Linked DNA regions of Homo sapiens: regions 1 and 2 are each linked to region 3. Evidence: fine-mapped expression QTL. A gene starts in region 3. Each other region holds a variant in brackets. All regions are shown on one strand. Distances are from middle to middle.

The links. PIP is the estimated chance that this variant, and not a neighbour inherited with it, causes the effect.
Region 1: its variant is the best candidate, but not a certain one, in a credible set for the expression of GOSR2 in T cells (TOPMed, PIP 0.60).
Region 2: its variant is the best candidate, but not a certain one, in a credible set for the expression of GOSR2 in whole blood (TOPMed, PIP 0.79).

What each region holds. Positions count from the first base shown.
Region 1 is chr17:46,946,508-46,952,673 of GRCh38, reverse strand. It overlaps a transcript of LRRC37A2 not described here and a transcript of GOSR2 not described here. Among named protein-coding and RNA genes, the nearest start is that of MIR5089, 23 kb to the left of the region's middle. The variant C/T (reference allele first, on the strand shown) is at 3,674.
Region 2 is chr17:46,874,041-46,879,040 of GRCh38, reverse strand. WNT9B (Wnt family member 9B) reads right to left here. Exons shown (of 4, transcript NM_003396.3): 3 at 3,675-3,940; 4 at 1-2,796. The coding sequence ends at 2,323. It also overlaps a transcript of LRRC37A2 not described here. Among named protein-coding and RNA genes, the nearest start is that of WNT9B, 25 kb to the right of the region's middle. RefSeq lists enhancers at 213-712, 2,022-2,622. The variant C/G (reference allele first, on the strand shown) is at 2,551.
Region 3 is chr17:46,919,657-46,925,822 of GRCh38, reverse strand. It overlaps GOSR2 (golgi SNAP receptor complex member 2), which reads right to left and starts at 2,663. Exons shown (of 6, transcript NM_004287.5): 1 at 2,602-2,663. The coding sequence starts at 2,630. It overlaps GOSR2-DT (GOSR2 divergent transcript), which reads left to right and starts at 2,952. Exons shown (of 3, transcript NR_186460.1): 1 at 2,952-3,012. It also overlaps a transcript of LRRC37A2 not described here and the pseudogene RNU6ATAC3P. RefSeq lists an enhancer at 1,963-2,687.

The sequences.
Region 1 (6,166 bases), 27 kb before region 3:
CTCTCACATAGCTGGAATAAAAGCCTTCAGGTTAAGATGTCTCCATCTCAGCCATCAGTTAAGAGTGGACTAAAGGAGCCATGTTCCTTTTGAAACCCTTTCCCAGAAGTCTCTCCCAGCAACTTCTGCCCATATCTTATTGACCAGAATTGGGTGACCTGACCCCTACCTGCAAGAAAGTCTAGAGGCACAAATATCTTCAACTGGACTTCTTGCTAGATCAACAAAAGTGGCGTGTAGCTAGTGAGAATAGGGGAGGAATGGATGTTGGTCAGGAAACCAGCAGTGTCTATGGGAATTCCAGGGAAGATTCTGATCGGCCCACCGCGCAGTCATGTGGTCACCCCAAACCGACTGCTTTGGGCTGCTGACCCAGTCCTGCATGGACCAGGCCTGCTTCAGGCGCTGACCCTGCTGGAGGAGGCAGCCCTCGCTGAGTCCCGTGGCACAGGTTTTCCACAGGAAGGAGAGACAATGGCACCAGCAGAAGGGGATAAGGATTTGTAGTCCAAAGACGAGATGCTGGGTAGATAAATGACATCCACCCACTATAAGAATTTTCTGGAATAGAAAGAAAATGCACCAAAAAAATAGCTTCACAAAAAATAACAACCCAGCTTCAGGAATCTCCCCCTCTCCCTGATGCAATATATACGAAGTTATATTGCAGGAACCAAATATAGCCACTCTGAGAGGATGCAGAGAAAAACGGTTTAGAAAGGAAGACTTCCTGGTGGGGGTGAACATGGAGCTGGGCTGTGAGGGAGGTGATGTCTGGGGGGGAGAAGCAGCGAGGCAAACACCCCGAGGGAAAAGCCAGATTTTCTTGCAAGGCTGAAAGGCGGGCAGAGTGGGGGAAGAGAGGGCCCTGTGTGTTCTCCCACCCTGGGCCATTTTTCCTCTCTGAGTGTACCTGGGCCCCAGAAAATTAGAGGTTTCCTTTTCCTCTTGTGTCACTATCTGACTTTGGGGCAACCCTGTCAGCATTACCCTGGCCTGGGAGGTTGTGCAGAGGGGAACGGGGAAGCTCTCCAATGCTAAGTTCCGGAAGAATGGAGTAGGGTGGCCTCAACATGGGGGCAAAAGAAAGTCCCTGGGAACAAGTTCCTAATCCAATTAGCAGGTGATTATATGGTCGTTTTCAAGGGCTACGCCAGTTAAAAGGCACCTCCCAGGAGGCTCTCTCTGGCAGCTTGACAAGTCACTGCTAAACCTGTGATCTGGAGACGTGGGCTGGCGCGGCAGCTGGGCGAGGAGCCCAGGCTCAGAAAGCTGGGGTGGGAATCTTTAAGGATGAAATTGATGGGTAAGGAGCTTGCTGTTGTCATGGAAATGGGCTCTGGGTGGATGAGCTCTGGTCCAATGGGTAACCTGTGGGGAGAGTGCCACCCCTACCAGACTTCACTGTGGGCGGCCAGCGGGCACCTCTGGAACCCGCCGTTCCAGCCAAGCCTGTGGGCTGCGTCCACCTCTGTCTGCCTCCTCCTAGGGACAGCGTGGTCTGGCAGTGCGTGTGCCAGTTTCTGTCAATAACTGAGGGGTGTGGAGAGATGATGCCCTCAAGCTGGAGAAGCCTTTGGCGTGGCTCCTGCCACCCTGACTTAGCTGTGCCTGGCATGAACATGGTACAGTGACAGGCCATGGGCGTGTAGTTGGGGCGAGGGCCACAGGCTAGTTTAGGACAGCGTGGCATGGTGAGACTGTCCCTGGGCAGCAGCACTGGATTGGGAGTCGGTGACTTCCCCCTCTGACTCCAGATCTCTCATCACCGACTGGGTCACCCTTGGCAAGTCATTCTCCCCCAGAAAGTCTGGCTTGGTGGTCCCCAAGACCACTTCTGGCCCCGCTTTTCCTCTGTTCTGGGATTTGGAACTGGACAGTTTTGATCTCATCAGCCCCATGTCTCAGCCCACTGAACTACCCCACCACAGAAGAGTGCCCCCACACAGACCAGTCCCTGCCCTCTCAAGCCACTGAGCAGGGCCCCGGGCAGGCAGGATGGTGGGGCAGCCCCATCCTGTCAGCCCTTGCTGCTCGGGGTCATCTCCCCCGCTAAGTTCACATGGTGGAAATTCCTGAAGCTCATGGCTGCCCCTGAATGCTCTTGGAGATGGGCCTAATAAGCTGCCTGGTCCAATTACCCTTCCATTTCCAATAGGTGCTATTTTAATTGGGCCTTTCCCTGGGACAAGTGTGAAGGAAAAAGCAATTTGTAGTATGGGCTTTTGGCTCTGGCACTGATCATACACTTAGCAACTTCATCTTCTCCCCCTCCATCTCCTTCTTTTCCCTCCCCTTCTCTCCATCCTCACCCTCCTGGCCCTTTCACTTGCCTCTGCCACCTCCTCAGCCAGCCGCCTCCTCCTCACCTACAAGAGGCAGAGAGTCCACACTCTCTGGGGACCAGTATGGAGGGAAGAAGACCCAAGAATCCAGCTGGGGGTGAGGGATAGGAACGAGAAGTGACTCAGGGGCTGCTCTCAGCCCCCGTGAACTCTTGCAGAGACATTGAAAAATACTGGAAAGGCAACAACTGAGAAAGAGAATCTCAAGTTCCTATGATATGAAAGTGGGTTCTCCCTGTCTTTATCCCATGCTCCCTCCAGGAGGCCCCACGGCCTCTCTTTGGGATTTGGTTTCCTCTTCAACACACACTGCTCACTCCAATTTCAATCAATATTTATGAAGTGCCTACTGTGTGCAGAGGACCAGGGACTGGAGGAGGGCAGGGACTAATGAGTCTGCTCTTAGGCACCCCGCGTCTGGCCTCAACTTACCTCTGCAGCCTTTCTTCCCTCCTCCACACTGAACCTGAAGCCTGAGCTCCAGCCACAGAATCCTCCTGCCCTTCCCAGAGCACACCCCTTTGCTAGATGACTCCCTCTGCTGAGACCGTCCGCCCAGGCTCCACCTGCTCCAGTCTGACTCATCTGAGATTCAGCTCAAAAGCCTCCTCCAGGGTTCCAGGGTAAGTAGATACTACTTCTGCCATGGCCCTAAGCACCTTGTACCTGTGTGACGGTTTGTGCACTTTATTGCTGCATGCTCATGTATGTCTTCCCAGCTAGACGTGAGCATCATTCAAGGGGAGTGTGGCAGATTGTACTCTCCAAAGATGGCCACCCACCGTGTCAATTCCATCCCACCTGCTCTTCTTAGAATGTGACCCACATTCTTCCCACTGAGAGGCAGCTGGGGGCTTGTGACCATATGGCTTGTGATCACCACGGCCAAAGGAGTATGGCAGAACAGAGGCCCTATGACTTCCGAGGCTTGGTCATAGAAAGTACACAGATCCCACCTGCTCTCTCCCTTGGGATACTCACTCTTGGAACTCAGTCATCATGCCCTGAGGAAGCCCTGGTCCCATGGAGAAGCCGTGTGCAGGTGTTCCAGAGGATAGCCCCAGTCCAGGGCTCAGCGACATTGTGTGCCCAGCGACACTGTGTGCCAGCCACATCAGTGAACCTTCAGATGATTCTCCTCCCAGCCTTCAAATCTTCCATCTGAGGCCCCAGACATCGCTGAGCAGAGACAGCTATCCCAGCCACGCCTGGTCCCCAGTTCTTATGCTCAGAGGCTGTGAGGTGTAGCAACTGAGAGCTATTGCCGTCAGCCCCTATGTTTTGTGGTGATTTGTTACACAGCAGTGGATCACAATGCAGGTGGGTCA[C/T]GTCTGTTCTCCAAGGCCCAGTCCCGTGACTGGCACCTGGTGGGTGCTCAGTTCGTAGCTATCGAAAGAATGGATGAATGAACTTTAGCAGGCAACAATTCCAGACTGATCTGTCAATCATCATCCTCATCTTTCCTACATCTTCCCACCATGGTTCCACGCCTCTCAGGGAACCCAGGCAGTCCCAAGCCCAGCCTTGATGATGTCACCGAGCCCTAAATCAACCAGCTCTGCAGGCTGCCCCACATCCACAGTTCTTACTACTTAAGCTCCTTAGATCAGTATCTAACCCCAGCAGTAAGATCCTGGGATTTCTGGCCCTTGCAGCCCTGCGCATACTCACTGATCCACATGCTTGATTGGCTTTGTCTTCACCACAGTTCTGTGAAGTAGGCCATTATTAGCATTCCCATTTCCCCTACGAGGACACTGAGGCTGGGAGAGAAAGAGGGAGTGAGCAAGTCCTAATAGGTAATGAACTGGAGATTTGAATTCAGGTCTTCTGATGAAGAACACAGGAATACATGTGCAATATCGTATCTTGTAACAAATAAAGTCTGACTGGCAAATACTTGCAGTCCTTTCTTTGGGGATATCAGATCCTTGACTCACAATCACACCAGCTGAATGAAGGGATCAGACCTGGGTCCTATGCAATGCTAGTGAACAACCACAACAAAACCTCAGTTACCATCTTTCTATGTCCTGGGCTGTGCAGTAGGCACTTTACAGGCATGGCAGTATGCACTGGCCACAGCTGCCCTGTGAGATGGGCATTATTCATCTCCAAAAGGTGACAGAACAGAGGCGTGGAGAGGTGAGGTGGCTTGCTCAAGGTTCCACAGCTAAAGGGCAGAGCTGATCTTCACACTCCACCTGCTTGACTCCAATCACTAAAGGTCTTCTGTCTCCTGACAAAAATCACTTCTAGGCTGGGCGCGGTGGCTCACGTCTGTAATCCCAGCACTTTGGGAAGGCCAAGGCAGGTGGATCACCTGAGGTCAGGAGATCGAGACCAGCCTGGCCAACATGGTGAAACTCTGTCTCTAGTAAAAACACGAAAAATTAGCCAGGCGTGGTGGCACATGCCTGTAATCCCAGCTACTCAGGAGGCTGAGGCAGGAGAGTCGCTTGAACCCGGGAGGCGGAGGTTACGGTGAGCCGAGATTGTGCCATTGCACTCCAGCCTGGGCAACAAGAGTGAAACTCCATCTCAAAAAGAAAAAAAAACTATTTCTAGTGACGGACAAGCTCTCAAATACAGGCACTTTTGCTACCACTTGAGGTAGTTATTATTATTCTCACTATACAGACAGGACGCTGAGGTTTGGGTGATTAGCCCAAGGTCAGGCTGCTAATAAACAGCAAAGTCAGGATTCTAAGCCATGTCTGCCATCCCCATCTCAAACATCATCCCACCACCCCCATCACATTACACTGCACCTAAAAAGATCATGTCCAGGTCTTCCTAGGACAGTGGGGCTTGTCCACACCCACACCAGCCTGACAGCTTCTCCAGCTCTCATCAGTATCTCAGCAGCATGAACGTAAGTTGTAGGGAGCTCTGAAGGTGTGTGGCAGTGACAGCCTCTGCCCTGCCTCCGCCTGGTTGGTGGTTTCACCAGATCTGGGGCAGGGTGGGGAGGGAGCAGGGGTAGTTCAGGTTGCCAGGTGCTCCTGGGAGAGAGACTAACAACCCACAGCCCACCACGACCTCTCTCTTGCACACATACACCAAAGAGGAGGCTGCCCTGCTTCCTGAGCAGTAACTCCTGGGGCCACAGAATCTAGGACATGCACAGGGTCCTTCCCCAGCCCTCCTGGTTTCAGAGACAGCTGAGGGTTCCTGCATCCACATTCATGTCAGGGTCCCCTGGCCTTCCTCCACACCCACCTCCAGCTTCACCCTAATACGTCCCTACTCTTTCCACAATCCACTCCAAACCCAGCCTGCTGAGAACCAAGCTCACATGGCTCCCCTGTGAATCTGGCCCCCGTCCCACCTTCCCCAGGGGCAGCAGTCAGTTGCAGCCTCCTCTCACTGCTGGGTGGGCTCTCCACCCTCTGATATCTACCCCACTTGCTTGGCACTTGACTGCTGCCCCGCGACATCTCATAATTTTTGTTTTTTTAAAATTGAAACAGAGTCTCATTTCGTCACCCAGGCTAGAGTGCAGTGGCACAATGTCGGCTCACTGCAACCTCTGCCTCCTGGGTTCAAACAATTCTCATGTCTCAGCCTCCCAAGTAGCTGGGACTACAGGCGCACACCAACTTGCCTGGCTAGTTTTTGTATATTTAGTAGAGACGGGGTTTCACCATGTTGGCCAGGCTGGTCTCGAACTCCTGGCCTCAGATAATCCACCTGCTTTGGCCTCCCAAAGTGCTGGGATTAAAGGTGGGAGCCACCATGCCTGGCCTCTCATAATTATTAATTACTTTTCTGTTTAAGGGCTGCAATACTGAGCTTGAGCTATTTCTTTTTTTTTTTTC
Region 2 (5,000 bases), 46 kb after region 3:
ATGAGGGGTCAGTGGTCACTCTAGTCCCCAGGGGCCCCAAGAGGGCCGAGGTGGGTCTTCAGGGGTAACTGGAAAAGAAAGGGATGAGAGCAAGGAAGAAGAGAGGGAGAGAGACAGACAGAGAAGACCCCACAAGCCAAGGAGCCCTCAGAACCTGCACTGTGCCATTGACTTGGGGTGTCCATGTTAGCAGCCAGCCACTGCCTAGATGCCTTAGAGCCTGCCCTTTGCCCTCCCACGACCCTGGCACTGCCAGCCATGAAGTCAGAATGCAGGTGGCATGTTGGTGGATCAGGGTGCTCTGGCCTCCACGTTGCTCCCAGGCCCCCTGCTCTGCCAGTGAGGTCCCTGCTGCCTTACGCCCAGCACTGAGCCTGGGTGGAGGCAGAGTTGGGGTCTCGGAGGAGCAAGATGGATTGGGAAGGCAGAGAAAATCTCCATGCTGTGGGGAAGTGGAAGAAAGGAGAAAACCAGCCCTCTCCCCATTTTTCTCCTGCTGCCAAGGTGTGGGCCAGGTGCTTGGGTCAGCAATGTCATTTTAACGAGAGGGGCTCAGGTCAGTTTGGCTTCTCAGCCGGGCCTCTGCAGTCAAAAATCCTTCCAGCATCCAGCAGACTGCCCTGATCCACTGGAGACTGGGCAGCTCCTCCTCGCCCTTGGAGGTCTCAGGGAGTTGGCCAGGGCACAGTCAGCGGGCCTTTGTCCTGGAGCTGGCACAGGCGAGGTTTCTGAGCATTCAGCTGATTCTGAAATTTCCTGTGTTGGTGAAGGGTCAGCAACTCTAGGTTTAGGGAGAAAGGAAGCTGACAGATGGGCGTGGCAGGGCCAGCAAAGTGGCCAAGGGCTTCCCGAAAGAAGTCACTTCCTCCTGGGTGGCATCGGGCCCCACTCTGGGGAAGTACAATGCCTCCAGCAAGGGGACCCCTGCAAGGTCTTCATCCTGAACAAGAGAGGCATGTGCAACAGGAACCCCCAGCCTGGTCCAGGGGCTGTGCATCCATGTGTGCCTGTGTGGAGGTACCAGTCTCTCCTCCTTTCACAGAGGGCCTTGGCAGGTGCTGCTGAAAATGTCCACAGGATCTGAGGAAATTATCAAAGTCACGTCTCCTCCTCAAGTAAGAGCCAAAGTGAGGGCCAAGTGAGAGGCCATTAGGAACTGAAGGAGGCTACCCAGGAGCCAGGCTTAGCAAGGACTCAAGCACCTATAACCCCAGCCAGGGCAAAAGCCTTAACTAGATGAGCAGCCACAAGAATAGAAATGTAACTTCAAGTCATAGCTCGTGAGCCAGCTGTTCTTCAGTATTGTGAACTCAGCTGGTATGGGGGTGTCACAGACCAGGCAGGCCCCAGCCACAGGAAGTCACCAAAGCTCACTCAAGAGCCAGCTGAGAAACTGAGCTCGCCACGTCACTGCCAGGCACCAGGAAGCTGTTGCCCTCCTCCTCTGCGCTGGGAGTGAAGATTCCTTTGGCCAGCAGGGAACACAGGGAGGGGCCGTTGTCTCCCTGTTCAACCTCAGGTGCACTGAGTCCCGCCTTGGTGGCTAGTTCTCCCACCTGTCTTACCTGCACTGGTGGTAGTTTTGAGCACGGCTGGGTGAGTGTGCATAACCCAGCTCTCGAGACAAGAATGAGGCCTCAGCGGAGGCATATTTGAAAAGCCAAATCAAGGACACAGGGCTCCAGGGCACAGATCTCACTCGGGTCCACTCAAGCACAGAAAGCTCTCCTTTCTCTGAACGGATGGCTTCTACCACCTGTGCTTTCTCCCCATCTCTGGCACAGCAAAACCAGGGGAGTGGTGGAGGTGTGTGACACCTGGAGCCCACTGCACCTGAGCAGGGCCACAGGACCCGATTGACCCATCTCAGCCAGGCTCCCGCCTTCACTTCCAGCTGGCACTGCCTGCCTTGGCATTCCTAGCCCAGCAGTTCACCTCCCAAGAACATGCTGGCTCCAAGCCATTCATCCCAGGAAGCAAGATGGAATAGCCCCTCTCTCCCGTCCAAAATTTCAGTCCTGCTGTGCTCTTGGTCTCCCTTATTTCCCTCCATGTCTTTCTCACTCTGCCCTCCTCTCCAAGTCCTCAACAAGGTTGGGGATGCTTGGGTTAAGGGAGGAGGCTTTGCTTCTCTTTGTTGAGTATCGAGGGAGGCAAAAGGCTGGCCAAGGAATGGTGGTGAGTGGCACACTCGTGTGCATTGGCACACATGCCGGTTTATGCATGCATGTGATGACAGTCTGCCCAGAGGGCCGGCTGGGCAGCTTGAAGGGTGCCACAGGAGGTCCTGGCAGTGCCAGACTGGCTTGCTGGGCAGTAGGCCTAGTGCTTGCAGGTGTACACAAGCTCCTCCTGCACACATTGCTGGCACTCCACGTAGCAGCACCACTGCACCTGGCAGTGGCAGGAGAAGGCCACCAGGCGGCTCTGGGTGTCATAGCCCCGCCCGCAGCACAGGCTGCTGCAGCTGGCCTCCCGGGAGCACACCCTACCTGCTGTGCCAGGTGAGTACTTGCTGGGCCGGCAGAAGCTGGGTGAGTCCTCCATGTA[C/G]ACCAGGTCCCCAGACCTTGGGGCCAGGCCTTTGGTGAGGCTGCCCTGCCTGGCAGGGGCCCACAGCTCTAGGCGGCCCAAGGCCTCATTGGTGGCACTGGACACCTTGACAGCCGAGTCATAGCGCAGTTTCAGCACCTGGCCCGTCTCACGGAACGGGGAGAGCTGCTTCCAGCAGGTGCGCACGGCACAGGAGCCTGATACGCCATGGCACTTACACGTGGTCCTGAGGCCACTCTTCACAGCCTGTGGGGGAGGCAGAACAGAGGCGTGGTCAGAGGCCTGGGCCCAGCAGCCAGAGCCTGCCCCCAGAGCACCAACCCCAGCAGGGCAGAGGCAGGAGAATGGGAAAGAGACCCAGGGTCTCAGCCCCAGCTCCTCCCCTTGGCCTGGAGTTCTTGTGGAATAGACAACTTACGCGACTGAACACAGCAGTCCCAGTTCACACCAACTGAGTGACTGAACACAGCAGCCCCGGTTCACACCAACTCAGTGACTGAACACAGCAGCCCCGGTTCACACCAACTCAATGATTGAACACAGCAGCCCCGGTTCACAACTCAGTGATGACAACTCAGAACTTAATCTCATAAACAGCTAGAGCACTGGTGTCTCCCAGCCTCCTCCCCTCAATAGACCAAGATACTTTTCACCCTCCAGACCTCCCACTACTGTGTAACCTCAGCCCCTTCCCTTCTCTGGGCCACTTCCATCTTCCCACCCATAAAATGGAGAAGTGGGCAGTTGCTCTAGATGGAGGTTTTCAAACAATGTTGGGCTTCCAGGACCTCCAGGAAGGCCTGGTCCTTGGAATGGAGACCCCTCTCCAAACATGTCCCTGCTTCACCAGACCTAGTCCTAAGCCTGGCTCCCACTGGTGACCACTGCTTCCACCAATGACACTCATGACCCTTCCATGCTTCCGCTGTGTTCCTGGCACCCAGTCACAGCCCAGAGTAGATGCCAAGGGAATGCTGGTTGAAGACGTGAAGTTCATCCTGCCTTTATGAAGTTCACGGCTCTTCATGTATTTTGGGGAGTGGGGTGCTGGCCTCCTTCAAGCCATGCTCCCCAGCTGTGTACCCTGGTGGGAAGGCACTGCGGGCAGCCAGGGACATGCTCACCTTGATGCCCACGTGGGTATTGTGGGCGTCTGCCCGTGCCCGCAGGTCCTTGTTTCCTCTCTTGGACCCCAGGAAGTTGCTCAGAAACTTGGTGCTGTACTTGAGGTTGTCACCGCACACGCCCCACTGCCAGGCCTGCCGGCTCTCCAGCCCCGGAGAGTCATCACAGGTGCAGCGCTCCATGCGCCCAGCGCTGCAGGCCCGGGCCAGGGTGTGGGTGAGGGCGGCAGAGGACACCGCGTACAGGAAAGCTGTCTCTTTGAAGCCTGGATCGGGCACCCAGGGGCATAGGGAGGGAGGAAAGGGGGAAGAGAGGAAAGGAGGAAGCTTAGAGGTTGCCTGCCGCCCTCTGAGGGCCAGAGGCGGTGGTGGCAGCGCTGTGATGGGCAGGACAAGAGAATGTGGCTTGAGGACACAGCTCCGGGTGGGTCTCCCTGTCAACTGCCCCTTAAATTCTGACTGCAAGTTGCCATTTAAATGGAACTTCCAGGCTGGGCACAGTGGCTCGTGCCCCTAATCCCAGCACTTTAGGAGGCCAAGGCGGGCGGATCATTTGAGGTCAGGAGTTCAAGACCAGTCTGGCCAATATGGTGAAACCCCGTCTCTACTAAAAATACAAAAATTAGCCGGGCATGGTGGTACATGCCAATATTCCCAGCTACTCAGGAGGCTGAGGCAGGAGAATCACTTGAACCCGGAAGGTGGAGGTTGCAGTGAGCTGAGATTGCGCCATTGCACTCCAGCCTGGGTGACAGAGGGAGACCTTGTCTCAAAAAAATTTTTTTAATTTATAAATAAATAAATAAATGGAATTTACAAATTCACTATGGAGTATGTTCCCAGATTCCCAGAGGGCAGCAGGCCAGGGGCTACGGCCTTCACCTCTCAGAGAAGAACACTGAGATGCAAAGAGAAGCTACTCAGACACCTGGCGTAGGCACAGTTGGGGCTAAACCTGCCATTTTGACTCCAGGTCGGTGTATGACCATTTGGATGGGCCCATTTCTGAGGCCCCTGAGATAAGCCCCATGGGCTTCCTATGACACATGATGGTTCTCAAATGTCATTCTCTGCTACCCACTGTGGAATAGACCCAATGATACAGTGACCTTGAGTCTCCTGGCTGACTTGCCTCAGACTGACCATCCCACCCACTCCAGAACCACCGACACTCCTCTCTGCTGGGTGTGGCCCAAACCTGGCCTCCCACCAGCTCACTACTTCCTGCCTGCCCTCCAGTGCATCTGGGTGCTGGTGATGTCCCGAGAGAGACACAGAGAGAGGCCATTAGCTTGGCTGCAGACCGTGGAGAGCAGCTGGCCTAGG
Region 3 (6,166 bases):
AGTTTTCAAGTAACTTTAATATGTCAATCTAATTCCAATGTACTCAATGTATTCAGTGACACGGCAAGAGATAATCACAAACTGGGTTCAAAGTTCCAGTAAAATTAATAAGTTCAGCTACTGTTGTGTCAACTCAGCTACAATCACTAATTTCTGCAGTTGCGAAAGTTCATTGCTGGTGCTCACTGGACTCCACGTGTTTCTTGTGAAAGTCATTCAGTCATCAGTTCTGTTATCATGGAACTGAAAGGAGCCTTACAGTTTAACCAGCCCAAATTATAATATCATTCTACAGATGAGGAAAAATAAAGTAAGGAGGTCTAGAACCAGAACTCCCACTCCTGGTTCAGCACTGGAGAGGAAAGATAGACAAGATACTGCAGCATAAAAGAAGGTAAACTCCTCGAGGGCAGGGCTGTGCTGCCAGCACTGAGAATGGTGCACAGCACATAGTAGGTGCTCAATAAATATTCAATGAATTAATGAGTGTCGGGGTAGCAGAGGGCCTAATAGTTGTGGGGCAAAGCTGGCCCACTGCTTGTTTTGATAAATAAAATTGTACTGGAACACAGGTACATCAATTAGTTTACATATTGTCTATGGCTGTTTTCCCAATATAACAGCAGAGTAGTAACTACAGAGACCGTATAGCCCACAGAGCCTAAAATATTTACTATCTGGCCCTTAATAGAAAAAACTGGCAAGCTGCTAGAGTCCAAGGGTGCATTGTTGGAGGCCTACAGAGCATCTACACTCCACACACCTTGTTTGGGGTACCATTTAGAATTCCTCTTCTGAGCCATGCAGTTTTCTCTGTGATTAGCTGCACTGAAAACAGGTAGTCTAAGACTCTCTAAATAAAGTTATTCTTGAATATAAAATGGGTCATGGCCTTCTTGGCAACATCCTTTAACTAAATTAACTAGATAAGACCATACATAACAGATTAACTTCAAGGCACTACTATGCCCATTGTGCCCTGCTATTGTGAAAGATAGGCCCTTTCTTAGTAACATGAACATAATTTCGTTTCATTCTTTCTCTAAATTACTCACAGACTAGTTTTAAGTCCCTTCCTATAACGTTTATGTGAGAATAGGGCTCCCCAGTGTAAAAGAAAATTCTGTCATTACAAAGTAGGTTCTGTATTTTCGCCTGTCCAAATGAAACACCTCATCGCCAAAATAAAAGAAACCCATAAACTTAGAAAATGAAAGAGAAAGAGGATCATCACCCTCTTATTCCTCATGCTTCAGGGCATTTCATTTCCAGGCCTTGGGAGTGTGATTTTAAGTGTTTTAATCAACAAAACTACAGCATAAGTTTGAAAGTTCTCAATAGGATAGGTATATACCTCAAAAAATTGAGAAGAGAAACTAAAACAGATACTTCTACACCAGAGTTCATAGCAGTATTATTCTCAACAGCCCAATGGTGGAAACAACTCAAGTGTCCATCAACAGATGAATGGATAACAAAATGTGGTAGACACATAAAACGGAATATTATTCCGTCATAAAACAGAATGAAATTCTGGTAACAGGCTACAATATAGATGAACCCTGAAAACATTAAGTGAAATAAGCCAGATACAAAAGGACAAATTCTGTATGACTCCACTTATATTAAGTATCTAGAATAGGTAAACTCATAGAGAGAAGTAAAACAGAGGTTACTAGGTGTTCTGGAAGGAAGAAATGAAGTGCTACTGATTAACAGGCACACTGGGATGATGAAAAAGTTCTGGAAATGGATCGTAGTGATGTAAGTTGTGAATGTACTCAATGTCACTGAATTGTACACTTAAAAATTGTTAAAACAGTAAATCTTATGTTGTGTATATTTTACAATAAAAAATAAAAATCATAAAATTCCGTCCCTCCAAAACAGGGTAAAAATCATAATTCTGCCCCCCGCCCCCAAAAATAGGGTAAGTATGGCCCCATTAATACTCAACTACGTATCTCAGCAATTCCGAAAGTGCAGGACGATGCGAATAAAGGACACTACCAAGGAATTTAAGTTATGAGAAACTAAATTACAATTTGATTTTCTTAGCGATAACCTGTAACCAGATACGATTAACAAGTAATAATAGTGAATGCTACGTGGACAGCAATTTCTTTGTACCATAAAAATGTGGTCTTTAGTATAAATCGAATAAGAATACAAATACTTTCCCGTACGTGCCCTGACTCTCCAATTAAACAGTACACTCCTACGGCCAGGGGCCGTGTCTCCTACTCCGTGTCTCCTCTCGAGGTCTACCAACCAGGAGCACCGAGTTGACAAGTGCTGGACAAAGTTTTATAACCTGCAGGTGCCAGTTTCCCGTCACCCAGTCTACCCAGCAGGTAGTCACGAACTTGCAGACCCCAGGAGTCATCTGCCCCACGTCTCCAGGCCCCAGCCTGAACCCACTGTCTGTGGCTGACCTGGGAGTCCCGCCAAGGATTAAGCACTTCGGAGGCATCCCCAGCAGTGCCCTGGCGGAAAAACTCGGCCTCTACCCTGGCTGACGTCCGAGGCCTCAGCCCCAGAAGCCAGGCTCACCTGGCCTCGCCTCGTCTAGCCCCTGCCCGCTCCCCGACCGGCCCTCACTTGTGCGTTTGCTGGAACAGGGGATCCATGTCGCCGGCCCCGCAGGCCACGGCTCCGGCTCTGGCTTCCTCGGAACACGTCCTCACAGCCCCCCTTCCGGTTTCCGGCTTCCGGTCGCAGGACCCTCCCTCCCCTGCCGGCCAGGGCTGCCCGCACGCGCGCCTTACTAGCAGTGGTTGCGAGATCGGAGAAGGGGAAGGAGAAATGAGGCCGGCGACGGAAGGATAAGTGTAGTCACAGGCTCGGCTTCACGTGAAGGGCAAGGCGGTGTACATGTTCGCTGAAGGCTAGCCTCAGGATTCAGTCAGGCGTTAGGAAGGACAATCGCGGGATACTAACGAGAGGTCCTCAGAGCAAAGTTGAAGGCGAGCCGCTATCATCTGCTGTTCTCTGCCGCAGAGAGGACTGGAGGTTCTTGCTTGGCTTCACTTTAAACCATTTAATCGGGGGTCTGGAGATTTCGCTCTTCACTGTTTTTCCTGGCGCAAGCTTTTCCTGTTTCGCATTTGTCTACTCACTCTCCCGCCTATCTACCCCCCATTCCTATTTATCCATCCAGTAAACCTACATTGAATGAGTGGTTATTATGTGTCATGTGTAAAGTAGGGAAAACCGGGTTCCTCCTGCCCTCAAAGAGGTTCTGGTCTGGGAAAGGAAATAAGATATGTATACTCTCAAAAGACAAAATTACAAGAAATGTAGTTATAGATTTTTTTTCTTTATTTTATTATTTTTTATTATTATACTTTAAGTTCTAGGGTACATGTGCACAACGTGCAGGGTTGTTACATATGTATACATGTGCCATGTTGGTGTGCTGCACCCATTAACTCGTCATTTACATTAGGTATATCTCCTAATGCTATCCCTTCCCCCTCTCCCCACCCCACAACAGGCCCCGAAGTGTGATGTCCCCCTTCCTGTGTCCAAGTGTTCTCATCGTTCAGTTCCCACCTATGAGTGAGAACATGTAATGTTTGTTTTTTTGTCCTTGCGATAGTTTGCTGAGAATGTTGGTTTCCAGCTTCATCCGTGTCCCTACAAAGGACATGAACTCATCATTTTTTATGGCTGCATAGTATTCCATGGTGTATATATGCCACATTTTCTTAATCCAGTCTGTCATTGTTGGACATTTGGGTTGGTTCCAGGTCTTTGCTATTGTGAATAGTGCTGCAATAAACATACATGTAAATGTGTCTTTATAGCAGCATGATTTATAATCCTTTGGGTATATACCCAGTAATGGGATGGCTGGGTCAAATGGTATTTCTAGTTCTAGATCCCTGAGAAATCTCCACACTGTCTTCCACAATGGTTGAACCAGTTAACAGTCCCACCAACAGTGTAAAAGTGTTCTTATTTCTCCACATCCTCTCCAGCAGCTGTTGTTTCCTGACTTTTTAATGGTCGCCATTCTAACTGGTGTGAGATGGTATCTCATTGTGGTTTTGATTTGCATTTCTCTGATGGCCAGTGATGATGAGCATTTTTTCATGTGTCTGTTGGCTGCATAAATGTCTTCTTTTGAGAAGTGTCTGTTCATATCCTTCGCCCACTTGTTGATGGGGTTGTTTGTTTTTTTCTTGTAAATTTGTTTGAGTTCATTGTAGATTCTGGATATTAGCTCTTTGTCAGATGAGTAGATTGCAAAAATTTTCTCCCATTCTGTAGGTTGCCTGTTCACTCTGATGGTAGTTTCTTTTGCTGTGCAGAAGCTCTTTAGTTTAATTAGATCCCATTTGTCAATTTTGGCTTTCGTTGTCATTGCTTTTGGTGTTTTAGACATGAAGTCCTTGCCCATGCCTATGTCCTGAATGGTATTGCCTAGGTTTTCTTCTAGGGTTTTTATGGTTTTAGGTCTAACATGTAAGTCTTTAATCCATCTTGAATTGATTTTTGTATAAGGTGTAAGGAAGGGATCCAGTTTCAGCTTTCTACATATGGCTAGCTAGTTTTCCCAGCACCATTTCAAAAACGATGGTTAGATCCCACGAAGTAGGTGGTAATGCCTTAACCGTATGCGTGTTGTCAGGCCCAAGGGCCTCTTCCATCCTTGTCAAAGGGAGTGCTAACCTTCTCTCCTTTAATACAACACAGTTACAGATCTTAACTGGCTATTTGCGATTCTAGCACCAGGCAACACCTTATTCTATAAAATAGAATGAGTATTCTGATGAGCTGAGCAGAGGAGATTATCTTTATAGACAGAAAAGGGCTGAAAAAAAAAAGCAGAAACAAAGAACAAGTTTCAAAGTTATTTTACTTGTATTGGTTAAGGCAGAAGGGACTTCCTTTATCATGGGGATATGGCTATTTTCCCTCTCTTCTGATTTCTCCTAAGGTCAGATGAGCAGCTTAATTTTGGCTTTGTGGCTTGGAACTTTAGCATGAGTGACTCTATTTTGGTTTGGCCTGTTGCGCCTAGTGCAGGAGCTCAGTCCAAACCAATGGCTTTCTATGAATTTTATTTATCAAGACAAACATTCTAGAAGGTAGAAAATCCAAAGAGATTGAGCTGAGCTGGGGGTCGTCTCTAGGAGGAGATTTAGGAGAGACTTAATGAAGGGGTGGCATTTGAGCTGGGACTGGGTTTGGACACTTCTCTGTCTCCACATAGGCTATCCCGTTTCCATCCTCCAAGCTTATCTACTATTCCTCCCAAGGCAGGAGACATTCTTTTCTTGGACAAGTTGATACTTCTCTTTTCCTGGATCCTGGATCCCACCCAGTTTTGTGTCCCAAGAGACTGTCCACCCATGTACATTCTTTTCCTAAAATTATTTTTTTCACTTTTTCTATAATTGAGCATCTACAATGTACCATGCACAGATACTGGAGATAGGAACACAAGCAAGACACAGCCCTAAAACCTCCCATATCTCTCATGGTCTGTTGGGAGAACTAATCATACCCTCAAGCTACATTATTAAGTAGAATACATGCTACAATTGATACAAAGTACCATTTCCGTGGGAAGGGCAAGAACGGTTCATGGACAAAATAGCATATGAATAAGACCTTCAAGAATCAATAGAATTTTAACAGTGTCTTGTATATACTAACCACTCTGAAAATGTTTATTGTGTCTGCCTGGTAGAGATGAAGAGGAGGGCATTTGAGGCTGAGGGAATAGCTTGAGCAAAGGCAAACAGAAGGAAAGAACATGAATCTCCTCTGGCTGGATTCAGGGTGTTTGGGGCAATAATAGTAGTCGAAGAAAGGTTAGAACGAGATCATAGGAATTTTTTTTTCTTTCTTTCTTTCTTTTTTTTGAGATGGAGTCTCGCTCTGTTGCTCAGGCTGGAATGCAATGGTGCAATCTTGGTTCACTGCAACCTCCGCCTCCTGGGTTCAAGCAATTCTCCTGCCTCAGCCTCCCGAGTAGCTAGGATTACAGGCACCCACCACCACGCCCAGCTAATTTTTGTATTTTTAGTAGAGACAGGGTTTCACCATGTTGGTCAGGCTGGTCTCGAACTCCCGACCTCAGATGATCCACCCGCTTTGGCCTCCAAAGTGCTGGGGTTACAGGCGTGAGCCACTGCGCCTGGCCAGGAAATCT